Regions from separate parts of the Homo sapiens genome. Here region 2 is linked to region 1. The links come from fine-mapping of genetic effects on gene expression. A gene starts in region 1. The other region holds a variant in brackets. All regions are shown on one strand. Distances are from middle to middle.

What was found. PIP is the estimated chance that this variant, and not a neighbour inherited with it, causes the effect. A credible set is the group of variants that fine-mapping cannot tell apart.
Region 2: its variant is the best candidate, but not a certain one, in a credible set for the expression of ZNF155 in whole blood (INTERVAL, PIP 0.50).

What each region holds. Positions count from the first base shown.
Region 1 is chr19:43,981,422-43,986,806 of GRCh38, forward strand. It overlaps ZNF155 (zinc finger protein 155), which reads left to right and starts at 2,767. Exons shown (of 5, transcript NM_198089.3): 1 at 2,767-2,824. It also overlaps a transcript of ZNF221 not described here. RefSeq lists a silencer at 2,464-2,663.
Region 2 is chr19:43,815,899-43,821,283 of GRCh38, forward strand. It overlaps a transcript of LYPD5 not described here. Among named protein-coding and RNA genes, the nearest start is that of ZNF283, 8.7 kb to the right of the region's middle. The variant T/C (reference allele first, on the strand shown) is at 2,707.

The DNA.
Region 1 (5,385 bases):
TTCTGGGATGTACTCTTCTGATGTATCTTCAACAGGGATAATATACAAATGTACAAGTGTATTTATAACAGCATCATTTGTAATAATAAAATATTGGAAGTCACTGAAATGTCCATAAATTGCAGCACTGTTATATAAACCACTCAATGGAATTTATGCAGTTTTAAAAATAAATTACTCCATATGACATGATTTCCAAGATGTTATTATGTGAATATAGAAGAATTAGAAGTGTACTATCCTAACATTTAAGTAAAAAGGAAAAATAAGAAACACATCTATTCTGTTAAAAAAAAGTGGTAATGAAAATAATAAAATTAGTTACATAAAGGTGTTAGGTGGCAACACTGTGGAATTGGTTTAGGGGTAGGAAGGAGGGGAGTGGCACTTCTCTGAGAATAATATGTGGTAGAGCATTGACTCATGGGAACATGTTGATGACTGACATACCCAATAATATAAAATCAAGAATGAGATTTCTTTGTAGATAAACTAGGAAAGTGAAAATCATAGAATAACAAATTAACCTAAATGTATTTCAAATCAATAACATAAACAGTCTAAAGGTGACAGCAAGAAGTAATTTAAGCAACTTATTAAACAGTACAGTGTTTGACTATATATCCTCAGTCTAAAGACAAAAAGAACTATAAAAAATGTTGAACTCTACTTTTGCATTGTTTTTTACAATGATATGAATTAGTAACTCTGACACTGCATGATGCGTATGCAATGGTCTTAATGTTTGTGGCCCACCAAAATCCATATATTGTAATTTTTACCCTCAATGTGATGGTAATAGGAGGTGGGGCCTTTGGAGGGTGATTAGGTCACGGGATGAATACCCTTATAAAAAATGCCAGAAGGAGCTTGTTTGTCACTTCAACCAAATGAAGACACAGCAATATGGTGCTAACTATGAACAAGAAAGTGGCCAACTACCTGACACAAAATCTGCCAGTGCTTTGATCTTGGATCCCAGTTTCCAGATCTGTGAAGAATAGATTTCTGTTGCTTAAAAGCCGGCCGGGCGTGGTCGCTCACGCCTGTAATCCCAGCACTTTGGGAGGCCGAGGTGGGCGGATCACAAGGTCAGATCGAGACCATCCTGGCTAACACGGTGAAACCTCTTCTCTACCAAAAATACAAAAAAATTAGCCGGGCATGGTGGCGAGCACCTGTAGTCCCAGCTACTCGGGAGGCTGAGACAGAAGAATGGCATGAACCTGGGAGGCAGAGCTTGCAGTGAGCCGAGATCGCGCCACTGCACTCTAGCCTGGGCGACAGAGCAAGACTCCGTCTCAAAAATAAAATAAAATAAAATAAAATAAAATAAAATAAAATAAAATAAAATAAAATAAAAGCCAGGCAGGCTATGATATTTTGTGACTAAAAAATATTGGTACTGAGAGGTGGGCTTGCTGCTGCAACAAATACCTAAAAATGTAGCAGTCTTTGGAACTATGTAATGGATAGAGTCTAGAAGAGTTTTTACATGTATGCTAGGAAAAGCCTACATTGCCATGAATGGACTGATAAGGACAATTCTGGTTAGCGCTCAGAAATAGAGAATAAGAACTGTAGAGAAAACATCAATCTTGTTAGAGCATACCTAGGTAGTCATGATCAGAATGTTGGTAGAAATATGGACAGTAAAGGCCATTCTGAAGACCTCAGTCAGAAATGTTGAACATGTTATTGGAAGAGAAGAGAGCTTCTTGTTATAAAGGGACAAAGAATTTGGCTGAATTATATTCAGGTGCTAGTGTTTTATGGAAGGTAGAATTTGTGAATGATATAATTGTTTATCTGAATTAATTTCTAATCAAAGTGTTGAAGTTGCTTGAATCATCTTGACTACCCGTAGTGAAAGGCACGAAGTGAGGAATGACTGAAATAATTATTAATTAAAAGGGAAACAGAACTAAAATTTTTAAAAGTTTACAGCCTATCTACTTTGGAAAAAAAAAAAAACAGGAAACCTGAAGAATACAAGGGTATGGTTAAGCAACTAACTAATTCATGAATTTAGTATGGATTGGCCATGTCAACTGAAGCCAGGACCTATTGTCCAAGACAATGGAAGAATGACCCCAAAGGCATTTCACAGATTATGGCAGCTTCTCCTCCCATCACAGGCCCAGAGTGCAAGGACCTGGGGGACAGAAAGGGCCTTTGATGCCAGATATACCCTAATATATTAGGCACAGTTTCCTGCCTACTACGATTGAGCGTGTCAATAAATTTTTATCTCTTGGGAGGGCAGAACAGAGCAAGGATACAGCTGTAACTGGTTTAGAAATAGCAGTCACTCAATTTTCAGAGAAGTGTTCCTCATACTGTGGTTGGCACAGTCACTTTATCTAAAGAAAACCATGAAAAGTATTCTTTTTTAGTTTAGAAAAATTGATATAGAACATGAGACTCCATTTTTTTAAAATAAAAATATAGGTTGATAGGCCAGAATTCACAGGTCCACCTGCCTGAGCCAAAATTCTCACGCCTCCACAGAGCAAATGGACTCCATTTCCCAAGATACCAGCGAAACGCCTGCGGGAGTCTAATTGCCCGGTCGATGCGCAGGAAATTTGGCTCCCGCAGGCGTTTCGCGAGTAGCTTGGGAGGCGTGGGAATTTTGGCCCAGGCAGGAGGACCTGTGAATTCTGGGAAGTGGAGTCCATTTGCTCTGTGGAGTCGTGGGAACTTTGGCTCAGGCAGGCGGATTCGGGGGATTCTGGGAAGTGTAGTCCAGACGCCTGTGGCATCATCGACACTTCCGGTCTCCGAGCAGGACACTGCTACTTAACAAGGTGGTTTGAGCCAAGTATGTGTCTTGCGGGTCTTTGCGAAAGTGAACCAGTTATTAGGGGCGCCTAACGACCTGGGGGGTCAACTAAGGGGGTAAGAAGCCCTGGAGAAGACCTGAGGTTTGGAGATGCGAGGGGTGGGAGGGAAGTTTCGTTGCCGTCGATGGAGCCTTCTGGCGTTGGGGGCTGTACTCAGGTCCACCGGAGGAGTCGTCGGGGGTTCGGGGGGGGCGGGGAAGAACTCTGTCTAGTCTTGTGTGCCTGTTTAGAGGGTTTTCCAGGTGTTTGACCTCGTTCAGTCCGCCTCCCTCCACTCTTAAGTGTGCGACCTCTTTCTCGCGATATAACGTGGGGTGTTACTTAATCTCCCTGTACCTCCCATTGCCGTTTTTTAAATGAGGATTTCAGGACCATCCTGATAGAATTGTTTTAGGAGTTGAAAGTTGTGGTATAAAACAAAGACTTAACAGCTCCTGTCACTTGGTGTCCTGTTAATTTCCCGCGAAGTGGTCAGGTGCCCGGGTGGGGTCAGAGCTCCAGCTGCTCCGGCCCTTCTCTTGGAGCCCGGCAGGGCTCTGGATGATCCCGGACGCCTCTGACCTCTTTTTAGGAAGGCGTGGGTTGCATCCACGTTTCACGAAGGGAGAGGAGCATTTAACTTGTATCCGGGACGGCGACGCAGAGTGTTTGACAGCTTTCTCCTTCCCCAGCCTGACTTTTCTAAAAGAGCTGCAGGGAGGGACTTGGCTACTGAGGACAAAGCTGTCTACACGAGTGGTCTTTGGCTTTTCTCTTTTTAAAAAAAAGTTATTTATTTTGTTAGTCTGTTTTTATTATTGTTATTATTTGAGAATGAGGTTTGCTCTGTCTCCCAGGCTGGAGTGCAGCAGTGGCGCGATCTTGGCTCACTGCAACCTCCGCCTCCTGGGTTCAAGCGATTCTCTGTCCTCAGCTCCGGAGTAGCTGGGATTACAGGCATGCGTCACCATGCCCGGCTAATTTTTGTATTTTTAGTAGAGACGGGGTTTCACCATGTTGGCCAGGCTGGTCTCGAACCTGTGGTCCTAAGTGATCCGCCTGCCTCGGCCTCCCAAAGTGCTGGAATTACAGGTGTGAGCCACCGCGCCGGGCCGGTTTTTTCTTTTACAGAGATGTTCACCTCAACCAAGAGTGTATAGGATGTGTCCTTGGGCATGGGTGTTGATAATAATTAAACCTTAATTGGTAACTTAATTCTAAGGGCTTTATGGAAATAAATACATTTACGCCACACCATGGCTCTGTGGAAAGGTATTGCTCTTTTTCTTTTTTTTTTTTTTTTTTTTTTCCTGAGACGGAGTCTCGCTCTGTCGCCCAGGCTAGAGTGCAGTGGCGCGATCTGGGCTCAGTGCAATAGGCCGCCTCCCAGGTTCAGGCGATTCTCCTGCTTCAGCCTCCTAAGTAGCTGGGATTACAGGTGCGCACCACCACGCCCAGCTAATTTTTGTATTTTTAGTAAAGATGGGGTTTCACCGTTTTGGTCAGGCTGGTCTGAAACTCCTGACCTCGTGATCCGACCGCCTTGGCCTCCGAAAATGCTGGGATTACAGGCGTGAGCCACCGCGCCCGGTCGCTCTTTTCCATTTTAAATATGGGAGTGAGACACCTGGTGCTTAGTTCCCAGTAGAATGAGGTACAGCTGGAGCTGGAACCTAGGCAGTTTGGGTCAGAGCCTGAGTTGATCATCCCTTGGATACATTTTCATTGAGGTAGAGGAACTAGCTGGAATCAGGTGGGGAAAGAGAGTTAGGACTTGATTGAAGGGACCTTGAGAGCAAGGCTCATAGACTTGGACTTCTGTAGGAGTCTTTTAAAAATTTGTCAACATCCTGTTTCACTTTTTATAAGGATTTTGTATTGTGGAACCATATCATTGTGGAGCATTTTAAAATTAGATTAATAGGAGGAGAAAACATGTTTTAAATTACCCATGAATCCAAGATGTGAAGGTGCTAACTGTCTGATACAAGAGATGGAACTTCCAGTTCTCCTCCGTTTCTTTTTAGTCTTTCTCTGTGTCTATTGTATATTTATTTATAAGCATTTAAAAAAATTGTTATAATATCTTAATGTGTTTTCCCATATTTCTTTAACTATGGAAATTTTTAAATACTGCTAATAGAGAATAAACTAGTAAACTGCCATATTATGTCATGCTCATCCAATATTATTCCCATTTGTGTTTTTTTTTTTTTTTTTTTAGACGGAGTCTCGCTCTGTCACCTAGGCTGGAGTGCAGTGGTGCGATCTCGGCTCACTGTGAGCTCCGCCTCCCGGGTTCACACCATTCTCCTGCCCCAGCCTCCTGAGTAGCTGGGACTACAGGTGCCGGCCACCATGCCCGGCTATTTTTTTGTATATTTAGTAGAGACGAGGTTTCACTGTGTTAGCCAGGATGGTCTCGATCTCCTGACCTTGTGATCCGCCCACCTCGGCCTCCCAAAGTGCTGAGATTACAGGTGTGAGCCACGGCGCCCAGCCCCCATTGTTATCATCCTTATGACTATTTCCTGATAGTTGAAAACCTTTCATTTTTATA
Region 2 (5,385 bases), 170 kb before region 1:
AATTTTTGTATTTTTAGTAGAGATGGAGTTTCACCATGTTGGCCAGGCTGGTCTCGAACTCCTAACCTCAAGCGATTCACCCGCCTTGGCCTCCCAAACTGCTGGGATTCCAGGTGTGAGCCACCACGCCCCACTCTATCTATCTATCTATCTATCTATCTATCTATCTATCTATCTATCTACCTATCATGTATCTATCACTTTCAAATGTCAAAGAGCCCTACCAAATTATGTGCCTGTTTATCAGTTTAGGAAGTGTGAGTTGTAATAACTTATTCTTTACCTTAAGGGAGATACTATGGCATGTCCCAGATGATTGGACTTCTAAAATCTTCACTGATGTGGTAAGTTAGTGAACATTCATGAGGTTTATCTCCCTCTTTCTGTCACTCATTTGCATTACTATGGCTTCTACAGTGATTGCCACTTCCTGATCACCAGGTCAAATTAGCATGATTTTATTGGTGGAATGAACCAGTGCTATGTTCTTCAGAATGTAAAGATGATCAAGGCCTCTGTGGACTACAATATGACGGAGATTAGGAGGGTTATCAGGAACCTGGGGCAAGACAGTGCTGCAGTCCTTACCATGCACACATGAATGGCTTTTAATTCTCCTAAATGTCAGAGATCAAGTAAAATACATTTGTCAGATCATTAAGCACATACTAAGGACCAAAAACTAGGTTGGTCAACTCCAGTAAAGATGTCACATCTGACATAGCAGCTGAAATTGGAGCTGCTATTTGTTTACATTTAAAGTAGTCACTATGAATTAGCTTTGGCCACATAATAAGTGATACGGTTTGGCTGTGTCCCCACCCAAATCTCATCTTGAATTGTAGCTCCCATAATTCCCACATGTTGTGGGAGGAACCCGGTGAGAGATAACTGAATCATGGGGGTGGTTTCCCCCATACCGTTCTCATGATAGTGAATAAGTATTATCAGAGCTGATGGTTTTATAAGGGGAAACCCTTTTTGCTTGGCTCTCATTCTCTTTGCTGGCTGCCATGTAAGATGTCTCTTTGTTCTCTTTTGCTCTTCTGCTATGATTGTGAGGCCTCCCCAGGCATGTGTAACTATGAGTCCATTAAACCTGTTTTTCTTTATCAGTTACCCAGTCTTGGGTATGTCTTTATCAGCAGCATGAAAACAGACGAAAACAATCAGTAACCCCAAAACTCAGAGGCTTGAAATTACGAATATTATTTCTCACAATTCTGGGGGCTTTCTGAGCATTTCTTTTGCTCTGGGCTGGTTTGGCTGCAGCTGCATAGTATAGTCAGGCCTCACTCAAAGTTCTAATGGTTGGTTGGTTATTGTGGGGGAGGGGGCATGAGAATGACTTGGCCTTATGTTTCTCATCATCCCTCAGTCTAGTTCACGCTTGCATGAACCCATGGGAGCTGGGTTCAAAATGCAACAAGAAAGCAGTTTCCATTCAGTGAGTGTTTTTCAAACCTCTATATGTCACATTTACTACTGTCTCAAAGAAAATCAAATGCACATTCCCAGATTCAAGGAGTGGAGAAATTGACTCCACCTTTGAAGGGAAGAGCTGCAAAGTCATGTTGCAAAGAATATACACACAGGAATGGGAAGAATTTGTGGGATTTTTTTTCAATCTACCACATCCACTAGCTTCAGTCATGCAGGTTTTTTGCAGGGGCCAAGTGAAATGAATGGAGGTATGATAGGGACAAATAATCCTGCATCCTCTAAATTTTGATGATGATGCAATCTCTGCAATTCCTCCCACAGCACAGTATTGAGTTTCAAGGGTTTCCACTTGGCTCTTTATACCATAAGGACTTTATTTATTTTTTTTTTTTTTGAGATGGAGTCTCACTCTGTCACCAGGCTGGAGTGCAGTGGCGCCATCTCAGCTCACTGCAATCTCTGCCTCCCAGGTTCAAGCTATTCCCCTGCCTCAGCCTCCCAAGTAGCTGGGATTACAGGTGTGCACCACCACACGCAAGTAATTTTTTTATTTTAGTAGAGATGAGGTTTCACCTTTTTGGCCAGGATGGTCTCTATTTCCTGACCACATGATCCACCCGCCTTGGCCTCCCAAAGTGCTGGGATTACAGGCATGAACTACTGCGCCCAGCCCATAAGTACTCTTAGTTCACAAGTTAGGAAGCCACTATAATGAGTTCTACCAGAAGATGAGCATATCTATCCCAAATATATGTTAAAGGATAGAGGAAAACAACCATAGGGTGAGTTCATGGACTTACTGAACTCACTGTGAGATCAGACTTGGGCCAAACATGGATAAGTAACAAGCTTGAAATCCTATCACAAGGATCTTGAGGGTCTCTCCTGGAAACACTCCTCTTAGCTTACATTGCCTACAGGGAGGACCCTGAGAAGAAGTTTCTGTGCTATTATTTTATCAGCCGGTACAGTTCCAGGGAAGCAGGAGAGAGGGAAAAGTATAGTGTGGTAGGGAAGGAGACAACACTTGTATGAAGGTCTTACTGAGCTGGCCACTGCTTGCTATCAAGTGTAATTGATTGTTTAATTTTGTGTTTTAAGACCACCTAGCTGAGGAGAAGAAGGGAGGTGAATTCATCCACTGGTTCATGAAATGTTTGTCCCAGAGACTATTAACTCCGCTGTACTTCCAGGTCGCGTGTGAATAGTTCAATGGGTTCTGTAACGTCTCATGCATCAGCATCAACAGGAAAGCCCTGGGGC[T/C]TGAGACAAGTAGTGCCCATTGCAGGCATGAGGTCAGGTTTCGTTGCTGCTTGTGCCCATGTAGAGTTGTTCTGAGTTCATGCAGGGATGTTGCTGCAGCAGTGAATCAAGAGAAACAAGTTTCCAGAGGCCCCAGGCACAGGTGAGGCTGAGAGGATCTGAAGTGACACATAAGATGTGTCTGAACTCTTTCTTAATTCAACTCTTGCATGCAATTATCTGAGCCTGGTGATGATTAGAGTTTAAATTCTAAACTACTGATGCTGTATCATTAATGACTAATTGTCTATTATTAAAAGTTTCTGTCTCTTCTTGTCAATTCTTTAAGTTATAGCTTTCTAGGAAATTGACCATTTCATCTGTTTTCAAATTTATTCTAATTCAAAAAATATTTTCTATTCTTGTGTAGTCTTTTTCTTTCTTAATATTATTTGTGCCTGTTCTCTTTTTTATTCATCTTTTGAAATAATCTATTTTTTAATTATCTCAGAAATGGATCACTTCAAATAAGCAGTTGTTGGCATTTAGCCTCTATTGCATCAGTGTTTTCTATTTCTTTAACTTGTGCTTATTGTTGACCTCAACCAACTTTCTTTGTATTTATTCTATTATTCTGTGTTCTAACTTCAAGTTGGACATAGCCTTCATTCTTTTCATTTTTCCCTTCTTCTTCTTCTTCTTTTTTTTTTTTTTTTTTTGAGATGGAGTTTGCTCTTGTTGCCCAGGTTGGAGCGTAGTGGCATGATCTCAGCTCACTGCAATCTCCACCCCCAGGGTTCAAGCGAGTCTCCTGCCTCAGCCTCCCGAGGGGTCTAGGAGATTAGTGATTATTAGTTCTAGCGGGTTACAGTGACCGGTAGCACAGGAGGGATTGGCTTCCTTTTTCTGAAGGTGAACCGGGTCTTTTCTGTCCTTTTTCTAAGTAGCTTAAATAACACATGGTCAATAGGCACAATTTTCACAGGCCTCTAACTCATGACCCACTAATCCCCTAGACCCCCGTTGGAAAAAAGGAGAACGTGTAACCCTGGAGATCGATGGGTCAGGGCTAAACCCCCAAGTTGCCTTTTTAGTTTGAGGGGAGGTACACAGGCACTCTCCCAAACCAGTGTTTCAAACTTTTTATGATGAGCCGAATCTGCCAACACCAGAGCTTCCAAAAAGGACAAAAGAACTTGTTTCTCCAGCTAGCGGAAAGTGTAGCTCATTTCCTCAATGTTACTTTCTGTTATGTATGTGAGGGAACCACTATGGGAGACTGATGGCCTTGGGAAGCTAGAGAGTTGGTGCCCACTGATCCAGTTCCTGACCCAATTCCAGTTCAGAAGGCCCAAATTAGCAACTTCTGGGTCCTAAAAACTTCAATTATTGGACAATACTGTGTAGCTAGAGAAGGAAAAGACTTCACCATTCCTGTAGGAAAGCTCGATTGTCTAGGGCACACTCCAGCTGTCACTCTACACACAAACCCACACACTTGTGTCACAGTCACAGATTCATTCCAGTCCTGTCATACACCAAGCACTTTCTTCTTTTTGACACATACACACAGTCTGTCATACAAAGAGAAACACACCTGCTGTGTCATGAGCACACATGCAGTCACGAAGACATACCCTGGCCATTTCATGTGCACAGATGCACACACACCCCATTCCCTGTGTCACAAGACATCCCAGCCGTGGCACGTGCACTCTCATACAGACGCAACGTCACCATTCGCACGGTAGGGCACATCCTTGGCTCTATCACGCACATAATATTGCACACACCCCCTACACCATGTCTGTCACCACCACGGACGGTCCATCACACGCGGCCAGGGAGACGCCTGACCTCGTTTTGCCCCACCCCCTCCCTCAAGTCTTCATACCCAGCCACACTGTCGCCTTCTTCGGCTGCTCGCATTCGCCTCATTGCTTCTCCCACCCTTACCCGCACTGCCGACTGGGGCATGAGTCCGCAACGCCCTCTGCGCCTCGCCCTGCTTCGATGTCTCCTTCCGAAACTACACGCGGAACCCAAGAATCACTGGGATGCGCAAAGCGGATCAGGAGCGCACGCTCATTCGGCCCAGTGACCTGTGGGAATTGTAGTCCCGGGCCGGAAACGCAGGAGACGCCAGAAACCCAAGTTTGGGACGGCGCGTCCCAAGGGTTTCTGGAAGTTGTAACCTGTGCTCCGAGTGCGTAGGCGCAGGAACCCTTCGGGGGAATCCCTTTAGCAGGGAGCGTATATTGAAGAGTGCGTGCGGAGGTGAGAGCAATAAACTGATAACGGAAACAGATGGCATACTTCGTTTTCAGTTATCAAATTTCAAAAACTAAAAATGTAGATGGTACACAATATTGTTGAGAATGTGGGGAAATGAGAGCTTTCACACGTAGTGGGTGGAAATGACTACAGCTCTTTTACAGTTTTGTGTAGTAGCATTCACGAAGTGTGAAAGCAAACCCCTAAGCAACCAGCATTTTTACATACAAGAATCTAGCCTACAAAAATGCTGGCATGAAAGACAAAGATGTGGGTACAGTAATGCTTACCAAAGCCGTGTTTGTAATACTGAAGAATTCACATTGTAATACTGAAGAACCTCAATGTTCGTTTTTTGAGACACTGTTAGTCTGTGCTAGCCAATATGATAGCTATTTGTGGCTATTTAAAATTAAATCTATTAAA